Regions from separate parts of the Homo sapiens genome. Here region 2 is linked to region 1. Evidence: fine-mapped expression QTL. A gene starts in region 1. The other region holds a variant in brackets. All regions are shown on one strand. Distances are from middle to middle. Region 1 holds the start of NATD1 (N-acetyltransferase domain containing 1). Region 2 holds the start of TMEM11-DT (TMEM11 divergent transcript).

What was found. PIP is the estimated chance that this variant, and not a neighbour inherited with it, causes the effect.
Region 2: its variant is the best candidate, but not a certain one, in a credible set for the expression of NATD1 in whole blood (TOPMed, PIP 0.53).

Annotation. Positions count from the first base shown.
Region 1 is chr17:21,244,905-21,260,430 of GRCh38, reverse strand. It overlaps NATD1 (N-acetyltransferase domain containing 1), which reads left to right and starts at 7,021. Exons shown (of 3, transcript NM_152914.3): 1 at 7,021-7,272. The coding sequence starts at 7,167. It also overlaps the pseudogene EIF1P5. RefSeq lists silencers at 7,020-7,129, 7,280-7,399 and an enhancer at 10,890-11,391.
Region 2 is chr17:21,213,949-21,229,474 of GRCh38, reverse strand. TMEM11-DT (TMEM11 divergent transcript) reads right to left here and starts at 15,150. Exons shown (of 2, transcript NR_184102.1): 1 at 15,025-15,150; 2 at 8,742-9,110. It overlaps TMEM11 (transmembrane protein 11), which reads left to right and starts at 15,314. Exons shown (of 2, transcript NM_003876.3): 1 at 15,314-15,384. The coding sequence starts at 15,323. It also overlaps the pseudogene RN7SL426P. RefSeq lists enhancers at 14,333-14,542, 15,313-15,412 and silencers at 14,703-14,972, 15,093-15,232. The variant G/A (reference allele first, on the strand shown) is at 6,261.

The sequences.
Region 1 (15,526 bases):
TAAGAATTCAACAGAAAGGCCAGGCGCGGTGGCCCACGCCTGTAATCCCAGCACTTTGGGAGGCTGAGGCGGGCAGATCACGAGGTCAGAAGTTCGAGACCAGCCTGGCAAATATGGTGAAACCCCGTCTCTACTAAAAACACAAAAAATTAGCTGGGCGTAGTGATGGATACCTGTAATCCCAGCCACTCGGGAGGCTGAGGCAGGGGAATCGCTTGAACCCGGGAAGCAGAGGTTGCAGTAAGCTGAGATCGCGCCACTGCACTCCAGCCTGGACGACAGAGCTAGATTCTGCCTCAAAAATAAAAAATAAAAAAGAAGTTTGCCTGCAATGGTGCTGTAATTGAGCATCCGGAATATGGAGAAGTACTTCAGCTATAGGGTGACCAACACAAGAACATATGCCAGTTCCTCATAGAGACTGGACTGGCTAAGGACGATCAGCTGAAGGTTCATGGGTTTTAAGTGCTTGTGGCTCACTGAAGCTTAAGTGAGGATTTGCCTGCAATGAGTAAAATTTCCCTTCCGTCCCTTGTCACAAGTTTAAAAACCTCATAGCTTGTACAATGTAACCATTTGGGGTCCGGTTTTTAACTTGGACTAGTGTAACTCCTTCATGCAATATACTGAAAAGAGACATAAAAAAATACAAAAATTAGCTGGGCGTGGTGGCACGTGCCTGTAATCCCAGCCACTCAGAGGAGGCTGAAGCAGGAGAATCGCTTGAACCCGGGAGGCAAAGGCTGCAGTGAGCCGAGATCACGCCACTGCATTCCAGGCTGGGCGACAGAGCAAGACTCTGTCTCGAGAAAAAAAAAAGAAAGTAAAGGAATAAAAGAAGGGCTATTCCATAGGCAGAGCAGCAGCTTGAGCTGCTGGACTAAGGATAGTTTTTTGATTTTATATTAAACAACGGGTGGATTATCCATGAGTTTTCCAGGAAAGGGGTGAGCAATTCCTAGAGCTAAACCCCTTTTTAGACCACACAGGGTAACTTCCAGACATTGCCATTGCATCTGTAAACCCTCATGGCCCTGGTGGGGGAGTGTCTTTTAGCATGCTAATATATCCTAATGAGTGCATAACGAGCAGTGAGGACGACCAGAGGTAACTCACATTGCCATCTTGGTTTTGGTGGGTTTTGGCTGGCTTCTTTACTGCAACCTGTTTTGTTTTGTTTTTGAGACGGAGTCTCGCTCTGTCGCCCAGGCTGGCGTGCAGTGGCTCGATCTTGGCTCACTGCAAGCTCCGCCTCCCGGGTTCCAGCGATTCTCCTCCCTCAGCCTCCTAAGTAGCTGGGACTACAGGCGCCCACCACCACGCCGGGCTAATTTTTTTTTTTTGTATTTTTAGTAGAGACGGGGTTTCACCGTGTTAGCCAGGATGGTCTCAATCTCCTGACCTCGTGATCCGCCTGCTTCGGCCTCCTAAGGTGCTGGGATTACAGGCATGAGCCACCGCGCCCGGTCTTCTGCAAACTGTTTTATCAGCAAGGTCTTTATGACCTGTATCTTGTGCTGACCTCCTTTCTCATCCTGTGACTTAAAATGCCTAATTTACTAAGAATGCAGCCCAGCAAGTCTCAGCCTTATTTTACCCAGCCCCTATACAAGATGGAGTCACTCTGGTTCAAACGCCTCTGACAAGATCATGCCCCAATCCCTCCCAGATCAGAGTCCAAGCCAAAGTCCCCTCAATCCGCCTGCAGGACCTCTGGTCTCATCCCCTGTCCTCCAGGGTCTCTCTGTCCTAGCCACGCTGGCTTCCCTGTGTTCTGGAAACGCACCCCAAGGCCTCTGCACAGCCACTCTTTCTGCCCTTCCCCCTATACCACCTGATTCACTCCCTCACTTCCTTTAAGTCTTTTTTTTTTTTTTGACATCGAGTCTCATTCTGTCACCCAGGTTGGAGTGCAGTGGCACAATCTTGGCTCACTGCAGCCTCCGCCTCCTGGGTTCAAGCGATTCTCCTGCCTCAGCCTCCCGAGTAGCTGGGATTACAGGCATGTGCCACCACACCCAGCTAATGTTTGTATTTTTAGTAGAGATGGGGTTTCTCCATGTTGGTCAGGCTGGTCTCAAACTCCTAACCTCAGGTGATCTGCCCACCTGGGCCTCCCAAAGTGCTGGGATTACAGGCGTGAGCCACCACCCCGACCCCTCCTTCAAGCCTTTCATAAAAGACTCCACATCAGCTGATGTCTGTCCTGGCCACCCAATCTGAAACCATGACCTCCTCCAGGAGCACGCCCCTGCCCCCTGCTGAATCTCCCACTGGGCCATGTGAACGGCCAGATCATTATTTTCTTCTTTGCTTATTGTCTCTCCCCCAACTAGAGCATCAGCTCCTAAAGGGCAGGGAGTTTTTTGTTTTGTTCACTGTTGGGTCTCCTTATGACAGTACCTGGTATGCAGTAAGCATCCAATATTTGCTAAATGAACTGATGACTGACTGAATAAATGATATCCTACGTCTACAACCTGGTCTCCACATGGCCGGGTTTCGGCACATACTGCTTCCCCAGGGTAGGGAGGCAGAGCACATCCACTGACTCAGCAGACAGTAAATGCTCACTTGGTTCTTTTGTTTATCCTTGTTCCAGAAGGGATTTCTGCAAGGTGAAAAGATGCCAGTAAGCTAAGTATATTCAAAAGCAGGGGAGAAGAAAGGGAGCCAGAGACAAGGAAGACCCTGGCTTTTAACTGGCCCTGGTGTGTGCTGGGCTCTGCCAGGGACTGATGAGAGAGGAATCTGTCCTGGATCTAGGATAGCTGGGGAACAGACACTAAATAAATGTGACTGCAGAGATGAGGGCTTCCCAGAGGAGGTGATGTTTGGACAACAGCACATGCATAGGCCCAGAGGAGGGAACGAGTATGGCCGGTTCAAGAAATTTCAGGAGGCGCGGTGGCTCAAGCGTGTAAGCACTTTGGGAGGCCAAGGCGGGTGGATCACAAGGTCAGGAGATCGAGACCATCCTGGCTAACATGGTGAAACCCCGTCTCTACTAAAAATACAAAAAAAATTAGCCAGGCGCGGTGGCGGGCGCCTGTAGTCCCAGCTACTTGGGAGGCTGAGGCAGGAGAATGGCGTGAACCCGGGAGGCGGAGCTTGCAGTGAGCCGAGATTGCGCCACTGCACGCCAGCCTGGGTGACAGAGCAAGACTCTGTCTCAAAAAAAAAAAAAAGAGATTTCAGGAACACGTTCTGGCCTCCCTAAACCACTTAAGTGCTCTGGAGATGGAGAAGTCACCTGAGACACTCATGAGGTTACATCTTGCTTGCTCAGGACTGCAGCCAACATGACTCAGCTGAGGTCAAGGACTTACCTGACCCCAGAATCACTTTCTGTCTCCTTGCATGTAAAGACTCACTCTCTAGCCTTGTTTTGTTTACAAACTTCCCAATACAAGACACACTGGTTGAAATAACAATAAAAATATGCTAGCAGAGGTTAGTCTCAGTAAATATATCTGACAAAGGAATGGTAACTGAACAACAAAAATCACTCTAATGAATTTAAAAATTAAAAAAATTAAATTTGCGCCACAAAAACTGTGGCACAACAGTTGGCCAAAGTGTTCACAACAGGATATCCAAATGGCCAAGGAGCATATAAAAAGAGGCTCAACATCTCCATTCAACAGGCCGCCGCAAGTGAGAGCTACAATGTGATGCCACTTCACATTCAGAATGGCTAACTTGGAAAAGAGTGTACAACGAATGAAACTCTCAAAATTGTCAGCAGGAGTGTAAAATGGTACACCCGCTTTGGAAAAAGCTCTGGCAATTTCTCACAAAACTAAATATACACCTACTATAAGATCCAGCAAAGGCCAGGTATGGTGGCTCATGCCTGTAAACCCAGCACTTTTTGAGAGACCAACACAGGAGGATCACTTGAGTCCAGGAGTTTGATACCAGCCAGAGCAACACAGAGAGGCCCCCAACTCTATGAAACTGAAAAAAATTAGCCCAGGATGGTAGCACGCTGTAATACAAAATTAGCCGGGCGTGGTGGTGCATGCCTGTAATCCCAGCTACTCGGGAGGCTGAGGCAGGAGAATCGCTTGAACCCAGGAGGCAGAGGTTACGGTGAGCCAAGATCGTGCCATTGCACTCCAGCCTGGGCAACAAGAGTGAAACTCCGTCTCAAAAAAAAAAAAACCCATAAAATATATATAATTAGACTGACAAAACAGACTCTTTTTTTCCTTTTTTTTTTTTTTTTTGCTCACTGCAAGCTCTGCCTCCCGGGTTCGCACCATTCTCCTGCCTCAGCCTCCGGAGTAGCTGGGACTACAGGCGCCCGCCACCACGCCCGGCTAATTATTTTTTTGTATTTTTAGTAGAGATGGGGTTTCACCATGTTAGCCAGGATGGTCTCGATCTCCTGACCTCATGATCCGCCTGCCTTGGCCTCCCAAAGTACTGGGATTACAGGCGTGAGTCACCGCGCCCGACCCAAAACAGACTCTTTGTAGCACTAAGATAACAAATTCCAACCTGACTCTGGTATAGCATCGCATGACAGATAACAGGCCCCGAAGGAAATTAACGAATTTTACCCAAAAATATATTATTCGACTTATTTTGGAATGGCCCTGCAATGCCATCTCTTGTGGGGGAAATTTGCATGTGTGGAGAATCCCCCTCCCTTTCTGGGTCTTTTTCTGATTAAGGAGAGATTTGACTAAGAGTCTGACACCTTTTAAAGTCCTAAAAGAGACATTTACCATCTATTCTTTCTGAAGCCTGCTACTTAGAGGCTTCATCTACATAATAAGAACCTTGGCTTCCACACACCCCTCCTTATCTTAACTCGAGTATTTCTTTCTGACATCAACTCTTTTTAGGAAAAGCTTAACTCTTTCAACCACTTGCCAATCAGAAAATCTTTGAATTGGGGGGGTGGGGTGGGGGCGCGAGGTGAGGGTGGCTCACACCTATAATCCCGGCACTTTGGGAGGTCTAGGCAGGTGGATGAGGTCAGGAGTTTGAGACGGATGGATCGCCTGAGCCTGGGCAACATGGTGAAACCCCATCTCTAAAAGAAATACAAAAATATTAGCCGGGTGTGGTGGCCCATTCCAGTGGTCCTAGCTACTTGGGAGGCTGAGATGGGAGGATCAGAGGATATTCTCGGTAAATATATCTGACAAAGGAACGGCTTGAGCCAGGTAGGCAGAGGTTGCAGTGAGCCAAGATGGCGACACTGCACTCCAACCTGGGTGACACAGCGAGACCCTGTTTCAAAAAAAGAAAAAGAAAATATTTGAATACACCTATGAGCTGTAAGCCCCCACCACTTTCTGGATGGCCGAACCAATGTACACCTTACAGGTATTAGGTCTTTGCCTGTAACTTCTGTCTCCCTAAAATGTATAAAACCAAGCTATAACCCGACCACCTCCAGCACATGTTCTCAGGACCTCCTGAGGCTGTGTCCAGGGCCATAGTCACTCATATTTGGCTCAGAATAAGCTCTTCAAATATTTTACAGTTTGGCTTTTTTTGTCAACACAATGGAATAATTACTCAGTGGCGAAAAAGATGCAAAAACAGGGATGAATCTCACAGATAAAATATTGAGCAAAAGAAATTGGACATTAAAAGTACATATTGGACTGGGTGCGGTGGCTCATGCCTGTAATCCCAGTACGATGGGAGGCCAAGGCGGATGGATCACCTGAGGTTGGAAGTTTGAAACCAGCCTGGCCAACATGGCGAAACCCTGTCTCTACTAAAAATACCAAAATTACCCCGGCTTGTTGTTGTAGCCCTGTAGTCCTAGCTCCTCAGGAGGCTGAGGCAGGAGAATCGCTTGAACCCAGGAGGCAGAGGCTGCAGTGAGCCGAGATCAAGCCACTGCACTCCAGCCTGGGCGACAGAGAGAGACTCCGTCTTAAAATAAAATAAAATAGTATATATTGTATGATTATGTTTACATGATGGTCTAGAGAAACCTAATTAGTCAACAACACTAGAAGTCAGGGACAGTGGTTACCTCAAAGGGTAGGGCATTGCTTGGAAGAGGGCCCTAGGGAACCACCAGTGTTCTGTATTTTGATTTGGATGGTGGTCACACGGGTGTGAACATCAAGTTTGCACCGTAATTAGCAAAATATTAAAAGTAACCTGTATGATTCACTGCACAGCTATGGGCAACAGGAGTGCCCCTTCAGGTGAGCAAGAGGGGAGGGTGTGGCTCTAAGGTTGAGCCTTGAGGAGCCTAATTAAGGCGCCTTTCAAAGAAGTCTGAGCCCCAACAGTCCTGTGTGTCTTCAAGCAAGTCCCTGCCCCTTTCTGGGATTCAGCCTCCCCATCTATGGAGTGGATCCAGGGATCCCCAAGGCCTCTTCCCGCATTTACGCCTCTCTTTGGGAGAGGTGGCATTTCACTCCTATCCCAAACAAGGCTTCACAGGACAATTCCTTCCCAGTAGCCAGTAGCCACCCAGGCTGCCAACACGGGTGGGTGCGCACTCCTAGCACCAGTAGCCCCAGGGCTTCAGCTGCGTGAGAACTTATGCATGTCTTTCACTTGTCTTAGCCTCTATTTGCTCATCTGTAAAATGGAGTCAAGCATACCTATTTCTCAGGCTTCTGGTGATAAATCTCAGCGCAGTGATTACTGAGCGCCCTGTGCGCCAGGGCTTTGCTATACACAGGCCGTGCACACAGCAAGTGCTTAATAAATGGTGGCTGCCTTGGGGACGATTAGAATGTCCATACAAAAGATTGTTACGTCTTTTTTAGAAGGCTCCTTGCGGGGGTCCCAAAGTTGCACGTGGGACAAACGCAAGACGGAAAAGTAGCCGGCGCGGCGCGGCGGCGGCCCGTGTTGTTTTGTTTGGGGCTGCGAGAGGAACGCGGCCGGCGCGGCCCCTTTAAGAGGTGACTGGAATGTATCAAAACAAAAAGGCCGCGCGTCCACTGGCTGCGCGCCGCACGTGACCTCACAGCTGATTTCCTGGCCCCCCCCCCACCCTTTTTGTTGCTGCCGCCGCCGCCGAGTGTCACTTTCAGCGCCGCCGCCTGCGGTCTCCCAGGCCGTAACTACCCCACCGCCTGCCGCCTGCGCCCGCGCTCCAGCCCCGCCGCGCGCCTGACCTTTCCCCGCGCGCCCCGGCCCCCGCCGGCGCCGCGCCGCAGCCCCGCGCGCAGATGGCGCACTCGGCTGCCGCCGTGCCGCTGGGCGCGCTGGAGCAGGGCTGCCCCATCCGCGTGGAGCACGACCGCCGGCGCCGCCAGTTCACTGTCCGGCTCAACGGTAAGGCGGCCCCGGCCCGCCCCGACCTTTTGTCTGCGAGCGAGCGGGGCCCGCCGGGGCCGCCCCCTTGCTGGGTGCCTGTCCCCCGCGCGCCCGCGGCCCGGCTCCGGCCCGCCGCCCGGGAAGGCTGTTGCAAGCGCGCGCCGCGGGGTGGTCCCGGGCGGCCGGAGCTCCGGGCGCGGGCCGGGTTGTGCTCGGGGCCAGGTGGGGGCGCGGCCGGCGCTCCGGGAAGTGGAACGGGCTGGGCGGGGGCAGACTTCCCGGGAGAGCAGGGGCCAGGGCGGACAGGGGCCCCTGGAAAGGCAGAGGCAGGAGCTGGGGCAGCGCGGGTCCCCTGTCTCAGCCGCAGGGGACCCGCACCTGCTCAGGCCCACTTGTTCACGACTGTTGGGCACCCACTGAAGGCTCCTGTTTGAGATCCTGGAAAGTTGGTCAGCCGTGACCTGTCCCCTTCTGCGGGTGGTATATGGCTTCCTGCTGCCCCTGGGAATCTTAGTCTTTCTACACGGGGGAGGCCTGCGGACCTGGGGCTGACCGCGAAAGGGGCTTGTGGTCCCCTGGGGGGAGTGAGGGGCGGGGGGATGGCTATCACTATCAAGACTTCAGTGGCTCTGGGACTGGCCATTTGCCTCACTTCTGTGTGCCTTAGTTTCTCCCTCTCTGCAATGGGAATAATACCAGTGCACACCCCATTGGCTAGTTGTAAGGATGAAAGACTGTAACAAATGTAAAGGATCAGACCAGCTCATGGGGGATTAGTAAGTGCTGGTAAACGTGGCCCGATCGTGATTCGTGAAGCCAGAAAGCAAGGGCAAGTTCTCCCTTAGTGTAGAGAAGTTTTTGTTTTTTGAGATGGAGTCTCACTCTGTCGCCCAGGCGACACAATGTTCCTGTGACACAATCTCGGCTCACTGCAACCTCTGCCTCCTGGGTTCAAGTGATTCTCCTGCCTCAGCCTCAGGAGTAGGTGGGATTACAGGCACCCACCACCATGCCCAGCTAATTTTTGTATTAGAGACAGGCTTTCACCATGTTGGCCAGGCTGGTCTTGAACTCCTGACCTCAGGTGATCCACCTGCCATGGCCTCCCAAAGTGCTGGGATTACAGGAGTGAGCCACCACGCCCTGCCAGTGTAGAGAAGTTTTGATTAGCCCATCCCCCCTCAGGAGGTCCCACAGGTAGGAAATAGAACTACAAAAACAAGGGCTATGAACTCCCTGTGGCCCACCTCGCCCCAGTGGGAATGTCCAAGCTGGACCGGTCCTTAGGGGCCACTGTGCCCATTTTCAAGAAGGGAAGGTGGAGGGCCAGGAAAGGGAAAGGCTTGCGAGAGGTCAGGCTGAGAGTTGGGCAGAGCTGGGATGGCGTCCTGACTGGTCTGACTCCCTGAACGGTGGGGCTCCTGCGACCCACATTTGGCTTCAGCCAGGAGGGGCCTCTGCCAGATCTCCGATGCCATTTGGAATGTGCCGAGTGTCGAGCCAGGCCCCACTACAGCTTCGTGGATGGGACTGTCACAATACCCTGACAATGTTGTGACATACCACCCCGTGTTACAGATGAGGAAACTGAGGCTAGGGACCTTAGGAAGTGATTGCCCAGCATCACCCAGAACTTCACCATTGGCCCAACCAACCCTACACCACCAGGCAGAGGCAAGTCCTGCTACTGCTGTGGTGCTGGCAGGGCTCAGCTGGCCAGGACACTCGGGGCCCTGGCGACTCTGGGAGAGAGGCCTCATGGCTTTCAAATCCTCTCTTCTGAGGTTCCAGAGCGGCCTCTGGTTCCCTTGTGGGCTCGGGAGGGCCATTATACTCAGAGACAGAAAGAAGAGGGGATACGTTTGTTTTTTTTTTTTTTTTTTCTTTTTCTTTCTCTTCCAAGTGGGTACAGCCAAAGGACAGCCCTCCAGAGCTGGCCGTGGTCAGGGCTGGACATGCCCAGCCGTATTTCTAAACTTACCCCCTTCTGGAATTCACTGCCCAGATAGCTGACCACAGATGTGGCTGGGCATCTCCCCAGCCAAGCCCAGGGGAGAAAGAAGAGAGAGGCCAGAGGCCCCCAAGGGAGTGGCTGTGCAGCACAGGGTGGGGCTCTTCTGGGCTTCCAGGCCCCACTGGGTTTGGGTGTGTGTCTTGGGACCAGAGAGGGGTCGTCTGAGTCTGAGCCCAGGCCTCCCTGAGCTGAGGAGGACAACAGGCTGTGGTGTCATTCCCGACCTGTAAGGCAAGCCTGGAGGCTGGTGCTGTTGTGCCCACTGAGAGATATAAACACTGAGGCTGAGGGGTCAGGTAGCCCCAGGCTCCTGGTGCAGAAGTGTTCCTAGGCTGTCCACATAGCACAGCTAGGCTGATTCTCTTCCTGCGAGCTCTGGTTCTGAGTGAGGGAAAACGTTTGAGCACCTTTGTTTATTAAGCATTTACAGTGTTCTAGGAGGCCCTGGGCACCTGGAGTCACTTTATTTCATAGCCACACACCACAGGGAGAGGGGAAACTGCATTTCCCATATACAGATGGGGAGACTGAGGCATGGGGAAGTGAAATGACTTGCCCAAAGTCTTGCACCACAGAGGTGGAAGAGCTGTGATTCACCCCGCAAGTATTTGTTGAGCACCTACCATGTACCAAGCACTCTTTTAGGTGTCGGGGTCTCCTGGGGCTGACAGTTTAGAGAGGGAAATGGACAAGAAATAGAGTCAGTTTTAAAGTATCCTGGAAAACAAGGGCTTTCATGAGAGGTGCAGGGGGCAGAGGGGAGGCTGTGTTGGGCAGGGCTGCTATTTACAATCATGTGTCTAGGAAGGCCCCTCCCTGGAGGGTGGCATTTAAGTGAAGACCTGAAGGAGGCAAGAAACAGAGCTGCAACAGGGAAGAGTGTTCCAAGTGGAGGGAATAGCAAGAGCAAAGGCTCTGCAGTGCCTGCGATGCCTTGTGTGTGCAGGATGGGTCAAGAGGTCATGGGGAGCAGGTGGTGCAGGGCCTGGAAGCCGTTGTCCTATGGGCTCGGCTTTGACTCTGAGGCTCCCAGGAGGGTCCTGAGCAGAAGACAGATGGGATGCCCCAGCTCCCTCTAGCTGCTGCTCTAAGGGGAGCAAACTGTGGGGACCAGGACAGAGCAGGGAGGTGGTTACTTTACTAGTCCAGGCACTGCAAACAGGCGTGGGAGAAACGTCTAGATCCTGGACAGATGTGGAAGGAAGCATGGCTGTGACTTGCTTGTGGGTGATGAGGGAAGGCTTGAGCTCAGGCTTGTCTGATGCCATATCCTGGTTCTGAAATGCAAGCTTGTCATTACTTTATAGATGGGGAAACCAAGGCGCACAGCCTGTAGGCAGCTAAGCCAGAATCAAGCCCCCGGCCTCCATCTGAGGACGGTTTCTGAAGGTTGGAGGCAGCTGGAAGAGACCCCCACCTCCTGGGCAGCCCCTTCCTTAGCCTTCCCTTTCCCTCACAGGCAGGGCTGAGTGTCCCACTTGCTGCAAGGAAAGGAACACTTGAGGGGTGCAGAACCCTGGAACTTTCTGCGTCCTCCCTAACCCCCATTTTGCAGCCAGGAAGACTGAGGCCCCAGAGAGTCAGCTGCTGCCCCTGGCCTCCCTCAGCACCCCTGGATGCAGTGGAGCTAAGATCACAGCCCCAGGCTTTGGGAGGTGCTCAGATCACAGCCCCAATATGAGGCCGCTGGCTGTGTTGGGCTGGGCTGGACCAGGGTCCTCTGGGGAGGGGAGGGACGTATGGTTGAGCTTCTCCAGGCTCACAGCTCCCTCTGCCTAATCTACCAATGAACCACCAACATGTGGCACCTCCCTGATCCAGGCTCTACTTACAGAGGTGCCAGAAAAGCCGGCCAGGGTGTCTGCTTGTCCTTGTCCCGTGCCACAGCTCTGGCGCCTGGGCTCTGCCTCCGTCTACCTCAGTCTCCTCATCTGTATATTCGCGTTTTGATCTGCCAGCTCTCCTTGCGGGGTCAGTGTGGGCCGAGTGGAGAAAGCAGAGGTCAATGTCTTCTGCAGACTCCACATCTCCCAGAGGTCCTGCCCCTGTCCCCTGTCTGCAAGCTTTGGTCTTTCTCTGTGATCGCCTCCCCTGACAATTTCCTGGCCCCCTTTGGTCCCGAGGTTCAGGAGGGGCAGAGAGAGCATGGGGGTGCAGAGACCCAGGGACGGGTCCCCCACGAGCAGTGTAGCTTTAACTTTTCCCAAACCAGTCACGTGATGCTGGTGGGGTTCTCAGGCCCAGGAGGGAGGAGGGTGGTAGTGATCATCCAGGGACAGGTGAGGTCTCTGGGGCAGAGGGGTGTCAGGACTGGCATAAGATCACCTGGCAGAGTTGAGACTGGAACTGAGGGCCCTGCCCTGCCCTAGGCTTGCTCCTGTGGCTCCCAAGTGACAAGTCTTGCCCCCCTGTGCTAGTCTGAGGTCTGGAGTTCTCAAGGCAGCTCTTAGAGCTGCCCAGATAAGGGCCTGGGCCAGGCCCAGAGGCTATGCCTATGTCACTGTGAGCCGAGACAGCAGGATCCACAGTGCCCAGAAGTGAAAGCGTGGCTGACAGTGCTACCCTGGTGTCCTGCTGTCCCATCATGGGGGCTGCGGGTGGTCAGGGGAGGCTTCTGGGCACGTGACCTTTGGGCTCACCTGAAATGAGAAGGAAGGGTCCCCGGAGGCCCTGGGCAGAAAGGTGACAGGCAGGGGAGCAGCCACCAAGGCAGGGAGGCCAGAGAGGCAGCTGGACCCCAGGCATGTTTAGAAAGCCATGTCCACGGTCCTGCCGAGGGTCAGGTCAGATGAGAAAAGGTGAGGAGGAGCCAAGGACCTTGGTCAAGCTTTGGGGACTTGGGCATTTTCCTGGGATGTCCAGGCAGGTTTGGGGCAGGACAAGGAGTTGAGCGTGAGGACCGGTATTGCATTTGTGGCCTGTGTCATGGGTGTAACACTTGTGACTGGGTGGCCTTTGAAGGCCCTCCAAGGTGGGGTTCAGGTCCTGGCCAGATGCTCCGAGGTTGCTGCCCAGGAGCCTGGCTCCTCGCTGGCCCAGTGCCATGTGGTCTGGCCCATGTAGGGTGTCCATTTAAACTCGGTCTTTTCCTCACATACAGCCCCACCACCACCGTGGCCACCCCAGATGCCCTCTGTTCCCCTTTCAGCCTGAAGACCCTCCTTTGACTCAGCCCTATCCCCAGTCAACTCCATACACCTCCGTGACTCTCATTCCAGGTGAGCCCAAACGTCACCTGCCCAGAGGCCTCCCCTGACTGCCCGCAGCACCCATGACGGGACAGCAGGACACCAGGGTAGCACTGTCAGCCACGCTTTCACTTCTGGGCACTGTGGATCCTGCTGTCTCGGCTCACAGTGACACAGGCATAGCCTCTAGGCCTGGTCCAGGCCATAGGCCCTTATCTGGGCTAGGCTCTAAGAGCTGCCTTGAGAGCTCCAGACCTCAGACTAGCACAGGGGGGCAGGACTTGTCACTTGGGAGCCACAGGAGCAAGCTTAGGGCAGGGCAGGGCCCTCAGTTCCAGTCTCAACTCTGCCAGGTGATCTTACCCCAGTCCCGACACCTCTCTGCCCCAGAGAACTGACCTGTCCCGGGATGATCACCACCACCTTCCTCCCTCCTGGGCCTCGGTTTCCCCATCTGTACATGGGGCTGTGAGAATCGTGTTTAGTGGGATGGTTGTGAGGATCGTTGTGTGGAGAGAGCAGAGCACGAGCCTGCCCTGTGCTGGGGCTGCACACGCTTGGGCCACCACCGCTTCTGTCCTGCTGTCTCCTGGGAGCCACAGCCTGAGGTGCAGGCCTGGCTGTGGGAAGGCCAGCATGCTGGTCCAGCCAGTTGTCCACAGGTCTGCCACAAGGCCCTAGTGTGTGTCTGGCAAAGACAGAAAGCAGTTGTTTTAGTTGGACAAACATTTCTTGGGTGTCTACGCCGAGCTGGGTGCCTGGAATATGGTAGTGGCTGAGCTGTGCGATCACTGAGGGTCAATGGGAGGCAGAGAAGTTCTGAGGACTCCCAGGGTCAGGTCCATCCATGGCCCAGGTGGCTACTCCAGAAACACTGACGCAGGGTGTGCACAGAGGAGTAGTAATGAGCTTGCCAGGCTTCTTGTATCCACCTCCCTGCTCTGCAGAGACTGCTGGAGCAAAAGCTGAGGTTTTTTTGGTGGCTTGCAGGGCCCTGTGTGGTCTGGCCCCAGGATCTCTGACTTGGTTTCCCAACCCTCACTCCCGGCTTGTTTGGGCCCAGCCACTCTGGCCTCCTTGCTCTTCCTTCAACCTCCTACCCCAGGGCCTTTGCACGTGCTGTTCTCACCAGTGGGCGGCTCATACCCCACATGTCCTTTGGGGTCCTTGTATGCCCTCTTTACAGTGGCAGCCCTGCCCCTCCCCACCCCTCCTCTGCTGTATAGTGATCCTTGGCACCTGTCAGCTTATCACCTGTGTGGCCTCTGTGATGTATGTATTTATTTAGAGACAGGGTCTCACTCTGTCACCCAGGCTGGAATGCAGTGATAACAATCATATCTCACTACAGCCCCAAACTCCTGGGCTCAAGTGATTCTCCCGCCTCAGCCTCCCAAATAGCCGGGACCATAGGTGTGTACCACCATGCTCAGCTTTTTTTTTTTTTTTCTTTTTTTTTTGAGATGGAGTTTTGCCCTTGTTGCCCAGCCTGGAGTGCAATGATGCGGTCTCAGCTCACTGCAACCTCTGCCTCCCGGGTTCAAGTGATTCTCCTGCCTCAGCCTCCCAAGTAGCTGGGATTACAAGCACCCGCTACCATTTCTGGCTAATTTTTGTATCTTTAGTAGAGATGGGGTTTCACCATGTTGGCCAGGCTGGTCTCGAACTCCTGAACTCAGGTGATCCACCCACCTCGGCCTCCCAAAGTGCTGGGATTATAGGAGTGGGTCACCGTGCCTGGCCCCTGTATTATTTATAATGATATTACTTATTGTGTGTCTTCATCAGTACGTAAGATCTCCATGAGGAAGAGTTTCATCAGTTTTGTTCGCTGCTGCCTGCCCTGCAGCCCAAACCCTACTGGGACACAGTAGGCCCTCAATGAGCCTGGGGTAATTAAATGGCCAGGCTAGGTAGGCAGCTCCCTTGGTGACGGAGTCAGTCCCAGAATAGCCTCCGATCTCTGCTCTCCTGTCCTGGGTGAGTTGAATTAACCCCAGCAGGTGGGGAGCCAAGAACCACATCCCTTGCTGTGCAGCCAGGACAGGCGGCAGTGGCCACAGCTGGGCCTTGGCCAGGGTGGCAGGCATAGTCCACAGAAGGACAGTCAGGCCCACAAGGAGGAGGCAGCAGGGCTGGTGTGGGGGCGGGGCTGCAGGCATGAGGGGAGTGGGGCTGGGGAACCCTCAGCTGGGCCTGGCAGGAACGGAGAAAGGGCATCAGGCAGAGGGAAGTGCCTAGGCGATGGCGGGTGCAGGAAGTAGCAGGTGTGTCGGTGGAGCAGAAAGAATGGCTGTGGCTCAGGACCTGCAGGCCTGGGCTCCAGCGTCATCTTGGCCTGCTGTGTGACTTGGATCCCTGCATCTCAGTAGTTCCTCATCTGGAAATGGGGAGATGAATTGTAGCCACTCTCCTGAGGCTTTGGGGAGAATCAAAGGAGATACCAAGAGCCAGAAGGCCTCCTTGCTGCCGTTGGCCCCAGTTCCGGTGGCCCTGGACTAGTGGTTGGACCTCTTGGCCTGTCAGCCTTCCCCTCGTGTTGCCCAGCACAGGCTTTAAGGGCAGATTTTCTGGGGCTTTGAAGTTAAAACTCATGAAACACAGCATGATTTTAAAGAGTGAATCACATCTGTCCCTTTGCTGAGGGCCTTCTAGTGGCGCCCAGCTCAGAAGGCTTAGGAGGCTCTGCAGGACCTGCCCTATCACCTCCCTGCCCCCATCTCTGCCCTTCCCCTCACCCACCCCACTCCAGCGGCCCCTCATTCAGGCCTACTCCTGCCTCAGAGCCTTTGCACTGGCTGTTCCCTCTGCCCAGAACACTGTTCCCTCAGAATGGCTGGTGCCCTCTCCTTCCTGTCTTCACCTGCCCCCATTCCCTGGCATCCTACACATCACTTGCTTTTCATGTTTATTCTCTTTCTCCCCTTCCGGTTTCATGGGGGTAGGACTCCATGTCTAGCTTGTTTGTTGCTATACTCCCAGCATCTGAAACAGTACCTGGGGCTCAGGAAACATTTGGTGGATGGATAAGTGGATGGGTGGGTTGATGGATGGGTAGGTGGAGAGACAA
Region 2 (15,526 bases), 31 kb after region 1:
GACCACTAGGTTGACTAAGGAGAGGTGAACCAGCCTCTGCTGGAAACGGAGCAGGTCAAAACTCCCATGCTGATTAGCAGTGAGATCATGCCTGTGAATAGCCACTGAACTCTAACCTGAGCAACACGAGACCCCGTCTCTAAAAAAAAGAGGGGAAAAAAAAGAAAAATGAAAATTAAAAAAAAAAAAGAATAAACGTATCAGATCACACCCTTCCTAAACTCGTTTTGGTCCCTGTAGCCGAAGGATGTCAGAGGGCAGCTCAGTGCTTCTCCCTACAACACACACTACCCTGTCTCAGCTGACCCCAGGATGGGCAGAAACCCAATCTGAGCTTATACCTAGGAGAGCAATTCCACCAGACACCACTGAGAACATTCCAGAACAAATAAGGATAGGAGTTTGCTGGGAGGATACAGTGACCTGACAGGCACTGGCCCACTCTATAGATAGCAGTCGCTGGCTGGGCCTTCCCTGCTCTCTCTGGCCCTGGGCTCCCCTCATAGTCTCTCAGGAAACCCCTACCTGCCATCACCTTCCTTTTCCTTTTCCTTTTTTTTTTTTTTTTGAAACAGAGTCTCAAAAAGTCAGGCTGGAGTGCAGTGGTGCAATCTCAGTTCACTGCAACCTCTGCCTCCCGGGTTCAAGTGATTCCCACGTCTCAGCCTCCGGAGCAGCTGGGATTACAGGCGCCTGTCATCACGCCCGGCTAATTTTTGTATTTCTAGTAGAGTTTCACCATGTTGGCCAGGCTGGTCTCAAACTCCTGACCTCAAGTGATCCGCCCGCCTTGGCCTCCGAAAGTGCTAGGATTACAGGCGTGAGCCACTATAGCCAGCCACCTTCCTCCTTAACTCTTGCCCACCACCCATGCTTGGCACAATCCCCTGTACAGAGGACCAAGCTGGAAGAAACCTTCCATAATTCAACTCCTTTTTAAAGGAGAGAAACCAAGGCCCCAAGGTGGGGTGACAGGTTAGGGGCAGGTGGGACAGAGACCCAGGTGTCCTGAGCCTCAATGCAGGACTCCTGGCCACAATGAATGCACGTGTGCTAGACCTGGGAGGCCTGGAGCAGCAGGAAGGAAGCAGGAAGAGCCAGCCGACTGGCAGGTCAGTACAGAGGCGGCCGCCCTGGCCTCACTGATGCACAGGCCCAAGGCAGCTCCTGAGGGCAATTCCAGGTTGTGCCCAACCCAGGCTGCTGTAGACAGGTTCAAAAATGTGCAATGTCAACACAGCTCTGACTCCTGCCACTCTGAGCTGCCAGGGAAAGTTCCAGAGTGATCTGGCTGGGGAGCCTGTGTCTGGGTGAGGAGAGAGTGGCCCCCAGGCAGGAGCTGACAGAGGTGACAGAGGTGGTGAACTCCCTTCTACTGAACTTTCAGACAATAGAGACACAGGTGTGAGGGCAACAGGGCCCCACTGCTCCCCTCCAGATGGGGGTGCTGAGGTCTGGAAGACTCTTGGGGCCTCTTAGGAAGGCCTCTGTAACCTCCTAATCTCATTCACTCCTAAGCCAGGCACCAAGGGCTCACTACGCTGAAACTCCCTGTTCCAAGTCACCTGCCTGAATGACTCCACAGGATACACCGTCTCTGATGGCACAGGGTCTCTCCTTACTTTTGGACTGATGTTCTCACTCTGTCACTTTGCAGTGCGTTGAATGGTGACCCTCAAAGTGACATGCCCACATCCTAATTCCTAGAACCCGTGAGTGCCACTATATTTGGAAAAATATCTGTCAATGTACTTAGGTTAAGGATCTTTCATTACGATGATGATTATTTTGAGACAGGATATCGCTCTGTCGCCCAGGCTGGAGTGCAGTGGTGTAATCTCAGCTCACTGCAGCCTCGACCTCCTGGGCTCAAGAGATCCTCCCACCTCAGCCTCGCAAAGTGCTGGGATTACAGGCGTGAGCCTCCACACCCAGTGAGATTAAGGATCTTGAGATGAGGAGATCATCCTGGATTATCTGGGTGGGCCCTAAACCCAACCAAGTGTCTTTATACGAGGGAGGCGGAGGGAGAGTTGAGACCAAGAAGGCTGACGTGCAACCATGAGGCAGAGGCTGGCGTGACAAGGCCACGAGTCCAGGCAGGCCACAGCCACCAGAAGTGGGAGAGGGAGGGAGCATCTCTCCAGAGCCTCTCAGGGAACACGGCCCTCCCAGCACCCTGATTTCATTCTTCTGAACAAATGCTTGCTGTTTGAAGCCACCCCATTTCTGGTCATTTGCTACAGTGGCCACAGGAAGCTAAGACCTGTCGCCCCCCCAATCCGTGGAAGCAAATCCCAAATTATTCCCATGCCCCCTGCTGTTCTCCCTCGCTGGCATCTTTCTTGCCTCTCTTCCCGCATACCATCCTCCTTCTTCTGACTCCGCCTTCCCAGGCTATGTAAGTCCAGGAGGCCTGGGGACCTGTGTCCCCTCATCTCCACCAATTCCTATCTTCTCAGGCATTTTCTTTTTTCTTTTTTTTTTGAGACGGAATCTTGCTTTGTCACCCAGGCTGGAGTGCAGTGGCATGATCTTGGGTCACTGCAACCTCAGTCTCCTGAGTTCAAGCGATTCTTCTGCTTCAGCCTCCCGAGTAGCTGGGACTACAGGCATGCGCCACCACGCCTGGCTATTTTTTGTATTTTTAGTAGAGACAGAGTTTCACCATATTGGCCACACTGGTCTTGAACTCCTGACCTCGTGATCTGCCCGCCTCGGGCTCCCAAAGTGCTGGGATTACAGGTGTGAGCCACCACACCTGACCTTTTCTCAGGCATTCTCTCCCAACTCCAACCCCAAACCACAAGATGAGATGCAGCCTCAAAAGGCAGCTTCTTTCTCCATCCGGAAGAGCAGAGACGCCTTGGGCCCTAGCAGGGAGGCGAGGGCTGGTGGGACAGGCATTTGGTCCTGGCTCCGCTGCAAGCTTACACTGGGGCCCCAGGGTCATCTTAGGACCTCCCTAGGCTTCGCTGGGTTTCCTCTGTGGAAATGGGAAAAGTCACACCAGATCCCCCCGAGGCCCCTCCGAGCTGCAGCGTTCTCTCTAAAGAATTGGAGAGAAGTTTCTAGGAGTCCCTGGGTTTCAGGATCTGTGAGATACTCTCCAAGTGCAAAACCCCACAGAGAATTTGGAAGAGTCAGTATGAAGAAAAATAATGTTGGCTGGGCGCAGTGGCTCACTCCTGTAATCCCGGCACTTTGGGAGGCCGAGGTGGGCAGATCACGAGGTCAGGAAATCGAGACCATCCTGGCCAACATGGTGAAACCCCGTCTCTACTAAAATACAAAAAATTAGCCAGCCGTGGTGGTGCGTGCCTGTAGTCCCAGCTGCTCAGGAGGCTAAGGCAGAGGAATCGCTTGAAACTGGAAGGCGGAGGTTGCAGTGAGCCGAGATTGCACCACTGCACTCCAGCCTGGGCGACAGAGCAAGAGTCTGTCTCAAAAAGGGGGAAGAAAAGGGGAGGGAAGAGGGAGGGGAGGAGGAAGGGAGGGGAGGGGAGACAAGGGATGTTGGCTGGGTGTGGTGGCTCACGCCTTTAATCCCAGCACTTTGGGAGGCCAAGGCAGGTGGATTACCTGAGGTCAGGAGTTCAACACCAGCCTGACCAATATGGTGAAACCCTGCCTCTACTAAAATTACAAAAATTAGCCAGGTGTGGTGGCTTGTGCCTGTAGTCCCAGCTATTCGGGAGGCTGAGCCAGGAGAATCACTTGAACCTGGGAGGCGGAGGTTGCAGTGAGCCAAGATCACACTACTGCATTCTAGCTTGGGCGAGAGAGAAAGACTCCGTCTCAAAAAAATAAAAAAAAAGAAAGAAAGAAAAAGAATGTTAAAATATCTCAAATTCCTTTTTAAATTATTATCATACTTTAAGTTCTAGGGTACATGTGCACAATGTGCAAGTTTGTTACATAGGAATACATGTGCCATGTTGGTGTGCTGCACCCATCAACTCATCATTTACATTAGGTATTTCTCCTAATGATATCCCTCCCACTGCCCCCGACTCCCACCGGCCCCGGTGTGTCATGTTCCCCGCCCTGTGTCCATGTGTCCTCATTGTTCAACTCCCACCTATGTCTCACTCATAAATTCTAATTGACATGATGAAATGATACTTTTTGGATATATACTGGGTTAAGTAAAATATATTATTAAAATTAACTTCAGGCCAGGCGTAGTGGTTTATGCCTGTAATCCCAGCATTTTGGGAGGCCGAGGCAGGTGGATCACTTTAGGTCAGGAGTTCGAGACAGGCCTGGCCAACATGGCAAAACCACATCTCTACTAAAAATACAAAAATTAGCCAGGCTTGGTGGCACATGCCTGTAATCCCAGCTGCTTGCAAGGCTGAGGCCAAAGAATCGCTTGAACCCAGGAGGCGGAGGTTGCAGTGAGCTGAGATTGCGCCACTGCATTCCAGCCTGGGCGACAGAGCAAGACTCTGTCTCAAAGAGAAAACATAATTTCACCTCCTTTTACTTTTTAAGTGTTGCTACTGGAAAATTGTGTTTGTTCTGGAGACAGTCTCACTCTGTCGCCCAGGCTGGAGTGCAGTGGCGTGATTTTGGCTCACTGCAACCTCCGCCTCCCTGGTTCAAGCGATTTTCCTGCCTCAGCCTCCCGAGTAACTGGGACTACAGGCACACGCTGCCACTCCTGGCTAATTTTTTGTATTTTAGTAGACACGGGGTTTCACCGTGTTGCCCAGGTTGGTCTTGAACTCCTGACCTAAAGTGATCCACCCACCTTGGCCTCCCAAAGTGCTGGGATTACAGGCATGAGCCACCATGCCCAGCCGCTGCTGGAAAATTTTAAAGGACCTTTGTGAGCAGCACAGTATCTATCCTGTGGCTCTCTGCGGTGGTCTCCCTCATCTCTGTCCCACTCATGCCAGGGCCCCTGGCATGTGCTCTATGGAAATGATGTGTGGATGCTGCCCAGATATCTCCAGGACCTGCTATTTGTTGGTCTGGGCTGGGGAGGTAGACCAGCAAGGGGCCAGAGAGTTCGGTTTAAGTGTACCCAGGTGAGCCCGGGGGTTTCCATGGCTGGGACAGATTTTGCTCTCATGGTCACCTTTTTCTTTAAATTTAGGTGAAATTCACACAATGTACAATTAATCATTTCAGAGTACAATTCAGTTGCATTTGGTGCATCCACAATGTGGCACAGCCATCGCCTCTATCTACTTCCAAAACATTCTCATCTCCCAAAAGAAACCTCATTCCCCCGAGAAGCCATCCCCATTTTCCCTCCTGCCCCCAGCCCCTGGCAGTAACACATCTGGTTTCTGTCTCTGTGGATGTGCCTGTTCTGGACATTTCCACATTGTTGTAACCATACAATATTTTATTTTGTGTCTGGCTTCTTTCACCCGGAACAATGTTCTCAAGGTGCCTCCGCAAGGTCCATGGACCGGAGCTCCACTCTCCTTTAGCTGAATCACATTGTATCATGTGGCTGCACCTCCTTGTGTGTATCCATGTATTCATGGACGCCTGGGTGGATGCCTCTCCTGGCAATGGCAAGTGGAGCACACAGTCTCTAAGCAAAACCTACGAGACCGCCTGGGTGCTGTCTCAGTGATGGCTGGCCCTGCCCATTCCTTTTGCAACCCCTAGGAATCCATCATCCTACTGGGGTTCCCTTGTCCCTCCAGCCATCACATAGGGTGGGACAGGATTGAACATAGCGTCAGACCCTCATTTCCATCGCCTTCTACCCAGAGTCAGCAATGTATCCAGCCCCAGCTCGTATCTGTGTGCTCTGCCCTCTGTGTCTTGGGCCTCGGGCTGCCAAGGAAGCTGCTCCCCTTCAGAACCCTTGAGCATGGTCCTCCACCAGTCTGCTGCCCCAAAACCTTGGGACACAGAGCCATGTCCTCACCCTGTAGTGTCCTTGTCCCAAATCAACCTATTATCTCCAGCTCCCTCTCAGTCTTGCAGCTTCTCAGAAGAGGGACAGGTGAGGTGAGACAAGCCTGTCTTCATTTTGAGGCCTTGATCCAACTGGGAACGGGGGTGCTAGGGACTGAATTGTGTCCGCCTAGAATTCCTGTGTTAAGGACCTAACTCCCAGGACCTCAGAATGGGACTGTACTTGGAAACGGGGCTTTTAGGAGGCAACGAAGGTGCAATGAGGCCACAGGGTGGCATCTTAATCTGACAGAAAGGGTATGCTTATAAGGAGAGAACTCTCTGTGTCTCTCAGCCATGTGGGGACACAAGAAGGCAGACATCTGCCTTCAGCC[G/A]GAACGGGATCTGCCAGCACCTTGATCTTGCACTTCAGCCTGCAGAACTGTGAGCAGGAACTGTGTTGTTTCAACCACCCAGTCTGTGGTATTTGGCTAGGACAGACTCACATACCTCCTTACCTAGGTAGACCTCCTTCCCCACTCACCCCTAAGTATGTTCAGTGATATCGCCTGCCTAGCACTCACCTGAAAATATCTCATTCTTGAATGCCTGTCTCCCCAGACATGGGTTCCTTGCGGATGGGGCTGACCCATGAGGCTGCCCTGGCTCCCAGCCTGGAGCACACATGCCCTAACTAGGAGTGGGCAGAAGGATGGACAGAAGGAGAGATGAAAAAGTGTGATGCGATGCATGGGCGCTTCCTAGAATCTGTTTCCCATAACGTTAACTACCAGAGCAACTGCTGTCATCTGGCCAAGGGTTCCCTGGAAGTGTCTGGTGTGAGCAGGGGCCTTGCTGTGGAAATGCTGGACAAGAACAGGGCCCTGTTTGAGCAACAGGAGCCGCAGCCTCTTGTGGCCACCATGAGACACTGGGCAGCGTGGGCAGGCGCCTCCACCCATGTGCGTTTCCCAGTTCATGAAGTCAAAATGCTGCCAGATGTCTCACCTTCCACATCGTTGTTGTCAGGATGACACAGGCTCTGCAGTGAGCTATGGGAAGTGAGGGGCTGCAATGATCAAACCATCTTTGCCTTGCTTGCCACACCCTCATGTGACCAACTTGGCCCAGTTTGCCCAAAACTCTCCCAATATTAAAACTAAAAATCCCATGCCCTGGGACTCCCCTCAGGCCCAGGCAAGCCAGGACAGCTGGCCACCCTTCCACATTCCTGCTCTGTTTTGGCCCCTGCCTTAGATGAGGGGCTGGCCACATGAGCTATGGAAAGGAGGGGCCTCGTCCATTCATCTCTCCACCACCAGGGTTGTACAAGCACGCGCTAAGGTTCTAGTGACAAATGCATCTCCAAGTCTGCACCACAAGCTCAGCATTCTTGCTGTTTCCATTCTCCGCCAAGGCGGACAATAACATAAAAGAGGGCTCATCTGTGCTTTCCTAGACTCACATTGTAAAACTATGGGACCAGTGAGGAGTTCCATTTGCATCTTGGGGCAATGGGGTGTGCTTGGGGTTCCCTAGGAGTACTGCCCATGCTCACACCTTGGTGCCTTTCCCATGTCTGAGGTGGAAATGTTGATGTGGTGGGATAGATCAAGGCTCCCCAAGGACATCCTGGCTGCATGGTAGCCAGTGGCTTTTTTGGCCAATGGCTGGGCTTCTCTGCTGCTGAGCCCTGTTAGGCTAGCTTTGGTCTCACCAAGTGGAGAATGTCTGCAGAGAGGCCTTTAGAAGGGGGTTGATTTCAGTGATCTACTGCTGCATAACAAGGAAACCAGGGGCATCAAATCACAGCCACTTCATTCTGCTTGTGGATTCTGTGTGTGGGGAATCTAGAGAGGGCTCCACAAGAAGCAGAGGGCCCTGTCCCTGCTCAGCTGTGATGCTCACTAGAGCTTTGACACCTGGCCTCTCCACATGGCTTGGGCTTCTTCAGCATTAAGACTTCAGACTTCCATCACAGCACAGGGAGCTCCAGTGACAGAGCCTCTATGGCCTTTTAGGAGCCAACCTTAAAAGTCATTCAGCATCACTTCCTCTACACCCTGCTGACTGAAGCAGTTATAGGCCCACTCAGATTCCCTGGGAGGGGACTTAGGCACCACCCTGAAGGAAGGAATGCCGAGGAGTTTGCTGCCATGCTTTTAAACCACCACAGGGGTGCTGGGGGAGAGTCTTCGCATATGGAAAAGGTGGGACAGGGGAGGCTGAGAGAGAGCGAGCGAGCAGAAGAAAGTGAACAGGTGAGAGACAGAGTGTGGCCACTGTGGTAAGTCCTGGGATTTTGGAGAAAAAGCCGTGCTATGTGTGATGTCACCATTCTCATCCATCTCCCTGGGCAACTTCCACCAAGTCCACACCATTTGTCACTGCTTCCAGCCTTGGATTTCTTTTTATCTCAATGATGTGACATATAGGACCAGCCTCTGAGGTGCCTGCCAGGTAAAGGCTACCTCCATGAGGGTGGGGCAGGGCCAGTCCAGAGAGGCCTGGGGATGCCCAGATGGCAGTGTGGAGCCCTGAAATGAAGTAATGATGACTGGAACTTCGATTCACTGCACACACACACTGCCTCACTGTATGCTGAGGCTGAGGCTTCACTTTATTTTTTGAGACAGGGTCTCACTCTGTCACCCAGGCTGGAGTGCAGTGGTGCAGTCATAGCTCACTGCATCCTCCAGTTCCTGGGCTCAAGTGATCCTCCCACCTTGGCCTCCCAAAGTGCTGGGATTATAGGTGTGAGCCACCTCCCCGGACCCGAAGAATTTTTTTAATCCTACGTGTTATGGGCTGAGTTGTGTGCCCCTGCCCCTCACCCTCACTTCAATTCAAATAACACAATCTTAACCTCCCAGTACTTCAGAATGGACTGCATTTGGACTTTTATTAAAGAGAAAATTAAGTTAAAATGAGGCCATGAGAGTGGGTCTTAACCCAATCTGACAAGTATCCATCTAAGAAGAGCAGATTAGGGCTGGGCATGTTAGCTCATGCCTATAATCCCAGCACCTTGAGGGGCCAAGGTAGGTGGATCACCTGAGGTCAGTTGTTCAAAACCAGCTTGGCATTTAGAACGAGGAAACATTTTAGAATGAGGAAAGGTAGGAAAGGATACACACCAACCTTTCAATATTGTTAGGATCACAGCAGTGCAGGGTGGCTTGTGGAATTATTAACTCTTATGACATGTCACTGAAGAACAAGATCCTGTAAGTGAAATTGCATATCTGGGGGAAAACATTGAAGCTGCACATTAATGGATGGAATGAGAAATACAATCTCCAGTAACAGAAATTTTAAATGTACTGTTAATGAATTTTTTTTTTTTTTCAGACGGAGTCTCGCTCTGTCCCCCAGGCTGGAGTGCAGTGGCGCAATCTCTGCTCACTGCAGGCTCCACCCCCCGGGTTTACGCCATTCTCCTGCCTCAGCCTCCAGAGTAGCCGGGACTACAGGCGCCTGCCACCTCGCCCGGCTCATTTTTTGTATTTTTAGTAGAGACAGGGTTTCACCATGTTAGCCAGGATGGTCTTGATCTCCTGACCTCGTGATCCGCCCGCCTCAGCCTCCCAAAGTGCTGGGATTACAGGCATGAGCCACCACGCCCGGCCTGAATTTTTTTAAAGTAAATAAACTCTGACTTTTTTCCTTAGTAAATACAAATTATTAAGGCCACCTTTTAAAAAGAGCATCATATTCAAAACGTTCCATTTCACTCATGAGAAATTCAAATTTTACAGAAAACAAGATGTCATTTTTTAAAGAAACCTTTTTAAGGATAATTTTAGATGTACAGAGAAGTCGCAAAAATAGTACAGTTCTGTATAGCCTTCATCCTGGTTCCCCTGACATTAACATCTCACATAGTCATGGTATGTGTCAAAACTAAGAACCAACATTGGCAGTTACTATTAACTGAACTCAAGACCCCATTCAGATTTCACCTGTTTTTTGTTTTTTTTTTCCTTTCTTGAGACAGAGTCTCACTCCATCACCCAGGCTGGAGTGCAGTGGCATGATCTTGGCTCACTGCAACCTCCGCCTCCCAGGTTCAAGCGATTCTCCTGACTCAGCTTCCCGAGTAGCTGAGATTACAGGCTTGCACCACCATGCCCAGCTAACTTTTTTTGGTATTTTTAGTAGAGACGGGGTTTCACTATATTGGCCAGGCTGGTCTCGAACTCCTGACCTTGTGATCCGCCTGCCTCGGCCTCCCAAAGTGCTGGGATTATAGGCATGAGCCACCACACCCAGCCCAGATTTCACCTGTTTTTCCACAAATGTCCTCTGCTACCATATTGCATTTAGCGAGATACCACTTTTAAATTTGCAAAAAGAAAACACTTGCTAACAGACCATGCTGGCACAGCTGTGGGGAAATAGGCAGTGTCATGTACTGCTGGAGGGAGTGGGGTGTAGTCTGGCAATATTTATCAAAACAACAAGTGCCTACACTCTGACCCAGCAAGTTCTCGTCAGGAAATTATCCCAGTTTTATTTGCAATGGGTACCAGGAAGTGGCGCAAACATGTTTACTGCAGCACTCCTTGAAATAGTAAAAGACTGTCCAGAGACTGGCTGATACAATTATGGCATATCCAAACAATGGATTATCATGTACTGCTAAAACAAATCAGATATATACTGATACAGAGTGATCTCCAAGATACAATTAAGTGGAAAAAACAAAAACAAACAAGAAATGGAGGAATGTGCATAATATGCATCCTCTGGGCCAAAGAAAACATTTGTTAATATATGTCTACTTTATATCTGCAGAGGATCCATAACAAAGGTACCAGTTATTGCCTGCAGAGGGTTGTGGACAGAGATGGAAAGAGCCAGGTCACAAGAAGATGAGCAAAAAAACCCCCTTATTTTTCACTGTATATTGTTTTGTAATTTGAATTTTATACCATGTGAATATACTGCCCATTCAGACTTAAAATTCTACTTTTAAAATGCTCATTTTGATGCTTTTAATGGTAAATTCAAACCTTTATGTAGAACTATTATACCTAAGATATTGTTTTGGAAGATTTGCCTTTCCCTGAATGCTACTACATGCTATGAGGAATAAAAATAGGCTGAGTTTTTACTCCTCAAAACAGCCCTGCAAGATAGGCGCTGTGTGAATGGCATCTATTTTCTCCCCTACACCTGCCTTTCTATACTCTCCATGGTCAGGGCTGGAAGCCAAACAACTACATTTCCCAGACTCCCTTGTCATCTGACTCAGCCAGTGGGAGGCACTGGTGGGAGTTTGGAAGATATGAGATGGGGAAAGCAATTCTAATCTCTGGCTTCTGGTGGCACCCCAGGCCACAGCGGTGGTTCCAGTTGTGTGTCAGTAGTACCAGGCAGCAAGTGTGGCTCCAGGCTCCTGCTCAGCAGCTGAGGAATCAGTCTCTGGAAACGAATTTTCCTGTTGCTCCTCTAGCCTTGTGGGGGTCAGGCTTTGGGTGCCCTTGTTCTCCCCTTGTTTCTCATGCCCTTCCAACACCTTTGTAAACAATACCCTGTATTAAATGGTTTTTCCTCTAATTACACACTGGCTAATACAGATAAAATTACTCATATTTTACAGGTGAGAAACTGAAATTCAAATAGAGAAAGTGACTTAACCAAAGGCAAGCTAAGTACCACGCTTGTCTCATGATGCTCCAGCCACCTTGGTCCTAACCTTATTGGACCACCCCAGGCCCATCTGCACTGCAAAGCCATTGCATTAATTCGCTCTGCACAGAACATTCTGTCTTCAGTCCTTCGCATGCACACTCTTTCAAGTCCCACTCAAATGTTACCTTTTGATACAGTCGGGTTTTCGTTTTTAAGAGACAGGGTCTCACTCTGTCCCTCAGGCTGGAGTGTAGTAATACAAACATAGCTCACTGCAGTCTCAAACTCCTGGGCTCAAGAGATCCTCTCACCTCAGCCTCTCCAGTAGCTAGGACTACAGGCACGTGCCACCATACTTAGTTAATGTTTAAATTTTTTGTAGAGTCAAGGTCTCCCCATGTTGCCCAGGCTGGCCTCAAACTCCTGGACTCAAGCTGTCCTCCTTCCTCAGCCTCCTAAAGTGCTGGGGTTACAGGTGTGAGCCATTGTGCCCAGCCTTCAAATGTTACCTTTTTAGAGTGACCTCTTACCACCTGTGATCTCCAAGTCACTCCATTATATCATCCTGTTCCTTTTCTTCTTGGTACTCCTCTCTGAAAATATTTACTTAAGTTGTTTATCCCATTGGAATGTAAAGCCCGTTAAGACCCAGGAACAGTGTTTGTCTTACTAAACACCGTATCTCTGTGCCCAAGAGTACCTGCAGAGTATGCCTTCAACGATTTAAGAATGAATGAATGAAAAGTGTAGTAAGAGAAGTAGCAGATTACTTTGAGCACCAGCGAGGACATGCCTTTCCACTGGCTGCCTTCATACAGCAGGACAGAGGGCTCACGGGAGTCTCCACCGCAGGACAGCCCCCAGGAACTAATTCCCACCACTCAGGCTGTGCCCTCCAAAGGTGCTCAGCTAATACATACTGAGTCAATCAGGCTGCCTATGAACCTTCCAGACAACCTCCGTGCATTAACAGTAATCAGGAGGAAACACCGTGAGGATCTTAGACCAAGTTGGCAGATTAGAAGCAGACGGTCATTCAGAAGTTAAGGGGAGAGTAAAAAGCTGGAGAAATGGGATGTTCATTAGGGCCACAGTTGTTTCAGCATTTACATTTACTCTATGCACTAGACCTACCTCCAGTGCTTCTGGAGAGGCACAATGGCAGAGTGTAATCTCTGTAACTGGACAGTCTGGGCTCAAATCCTAGCACTTTCCTGGCTGGCAGTGTGAGCAAGTCACTCAGGTCGTCTGTAAGTTGATTTCCTCATTTACAAAATGAGATTGTTGATTAAAAAAAAAAGTGATACTATTATTAAGACAGAGTCTTGCTCTGTCATCCATTCTGGAGTGCAGTCGTGCGATCTCAGCTCACTGTAACCTCCACCTCCCGGGTTCAAATGATTCTCATGCCTCAGCCTCCCGAGTAGCTGGGATTACAGGCGTGTGCCACGATGCCCGGCTAATTTTTGTATTTTTAGTACAGACGAGGTGTCACCATGCTGGCCAGGCCGGTCTTGAACTCCTGACCTCAGGTGATCCACCCGCCTTGGCCTCCCAAAGTGCTGGGATTACAGGCGTGAGCTAACGCACCTGGCCAACAGTATCACTTTTATACAGTTGTTGTGAAAATCAAGATGTAGATCACTTAAAATATAAAACAGCACTTGGCCTCCATACACGTATCACCTCATGAAATACCGCAATCCTCTGAGGGGAGATACTATCATCCCATGATACAAACCAGGCAGCTGAGAAACAGAAGTTACACAAGCAGCCCCTGAGCCAGAAGTGCGTTCTAGAATCCCTAGTATACCCTCTGAATCACCACACTGATACAAAGAAAAGACAGCCATATCCGCAGTGTCATACCATGGAACTGTTAAGAGGTCTCCAGCATGAACTACGCTGACACTTGGAGGCAGGGCTGTATGACTCAACAGGAAGGCCAGGTACTTTTTAGAGACCAGACAGGTACAAGGTCTTGAAGGACAAAAGTTGGCTGGGAGAGCTGGGCACCGTGGCTCATGCCTGTAAATCCCAGCACTTTGGGAGGCTGAGGGGGATGGATCATGAGGTCAGGAGTTGGACACCAGCCTGACCAACATGGTGAAACCCCGTCTCTACTAAAAATACAAAAATTAGCTGGGTGTGGTGGCACCACCTGTAATCCCAGGTACTCAGGAGGCTGAGGTAGGAGAATTGCTTGAACCTGGGAGGCGGAGGTTGCAGTGAGCCAAGATCGCACCACTGCACTCAAGCCTGGGCGACAGAGCAAGACTCTGTCTCAAAAAAAAAAAAAAAAGTTGGCTGGGAGGTAAAAGCATTTTAGGTAAAGCATAGAACATCTACGTATCTGCAAACCCTCTGAATTTACTAGCCTGGCAAGTTCCAGACGGGAAAGGTAGGCAGTTGAATTTGGAGAGCTAGGCAACTTCCAAACTAAGGAGGGGCTTCTTGATTGTGCTAAGGAATTTGAATCACACACTGTAGGTGATGAGGGACGGTGAGAGGATTGCAAGCAGCTAAAACTGTGGTAGAATGTCAGCTGGAAGGAAATCGAAAGGAATCCTCAACAAGGAGAGGGTCGCCTTTCCGTCTGCTGGCCCTCCTGCTGTGGCCTGCGGCGGGGTGGGAAGGGGGGTTCCACTACACAGAAGTGTGACGCGCAGGGCTGGGCTTCTTCTAGGCTGAATTCGGGACAGATTTTCGCATTTGTTTTGCTCAAGTATTTATGGGACCAATTAATATGTTTAGCAACGTTGTCTGTGGGAGCAGTAGAGGAACTGAGAAGTTCACAAACTGTAAGAGATCCTCCAAAGAGTCCACAGGTCTGAGGCAGCAGCACCTGGGAATCTCTGGGCTCCAGTTAGTCCTTCCTGACTTTGACTCGTTACAGCAGTGTCCAGACAGGGATATGTCGGGTCCTGTGGCAGGGTTCCCGTCAGGTGGGATGGTTTAGCCCCGCATCTGCCTTCAAAGATCCCGAGATTATGCCGTCGCAGCGGCCAGGGCAGGAGTGGGTGCGTGGCAGGGACTGAGTCTAAGAGGCCTGGAGGCCCTGTCTAAAACAGAGCTGTCGCTGGGCCCTCTCGCCTTCAAGCAGTTATCATACAGCTATTCCCCTTTCTTGTTTTCAGACCCTCTCCTCTAACAGCCTGCACCTGCAAGCAGGGACCTCCGTGGCAGCAGGGACAGCGTGTCTGTCTCGGCCTCCAAAGTACCCCGGAGTCTAAGAGAACTGGGGGAGGATGGTGCGGGAGCAGCGCCCGCCTCCAAGGAGGGCCCGGGCGGCGCCTCCCGCCCCTCGGTGACCTTATGGGCCAAGGCTGTGAAGGGCAGGCGTGGCGACGCGGAGGGGCCCGGCGCTAGTAGCCCGCAGACAGCGCGGCGGCCCCCAGCGGGAGAGGCAGCCTGGCGGCCAGGACAGCGCGGCCGGGCGCCTCCGCGCAGTGCTCTGGGAGTTGTAGGCACTTGCCTCTCCTCTCTCCTTCAGCTACTGGCTCTCGAAACTCAAGGACCTACCGGTGGGTGGGCGCCTGTGACTCCCAGGCTGCGAACGCCGGGAACTCAGTTTCTTCAGAAATGCTCGAACCAGGACGGCTCCTGGAGTCCTCGCGCCCTCGCAGAAGGACTACGGGCCCCGGCGACCCCGGGGGCGGGGCTTCCGGCGCGCTGCCTTGTGGGCACGGTAGTTCCGCCGGGTCTGGCTTCCGCCTGCCGAGCGGCCCCGGACCGCAGGCCGGACTACACTTCCCGTCGGCCCGCCTGCTCTCCCGATGCCGCCTTGGCGCGAGACGTTGGCAAGCAGAGTGTCTCCAAGATGGCCGCTTGGGGAAGGAGGCGTCTTGGCCCGGGCAGCAGTGGCGGCAGCGCCCGAGAGAGGTGAGATCCAAGGGCTTGTTGCCCCCAGTGCAGGCGGCTCAGCGGCCGGAGAGCCCAGCGCGGCCTCCGAGGGCTGCAGCAGCCTTCCTTCCCTGGTTTCCCCGCGCTCCCCCTACCCTCGCCGGGCATACTGGGTTCCAGT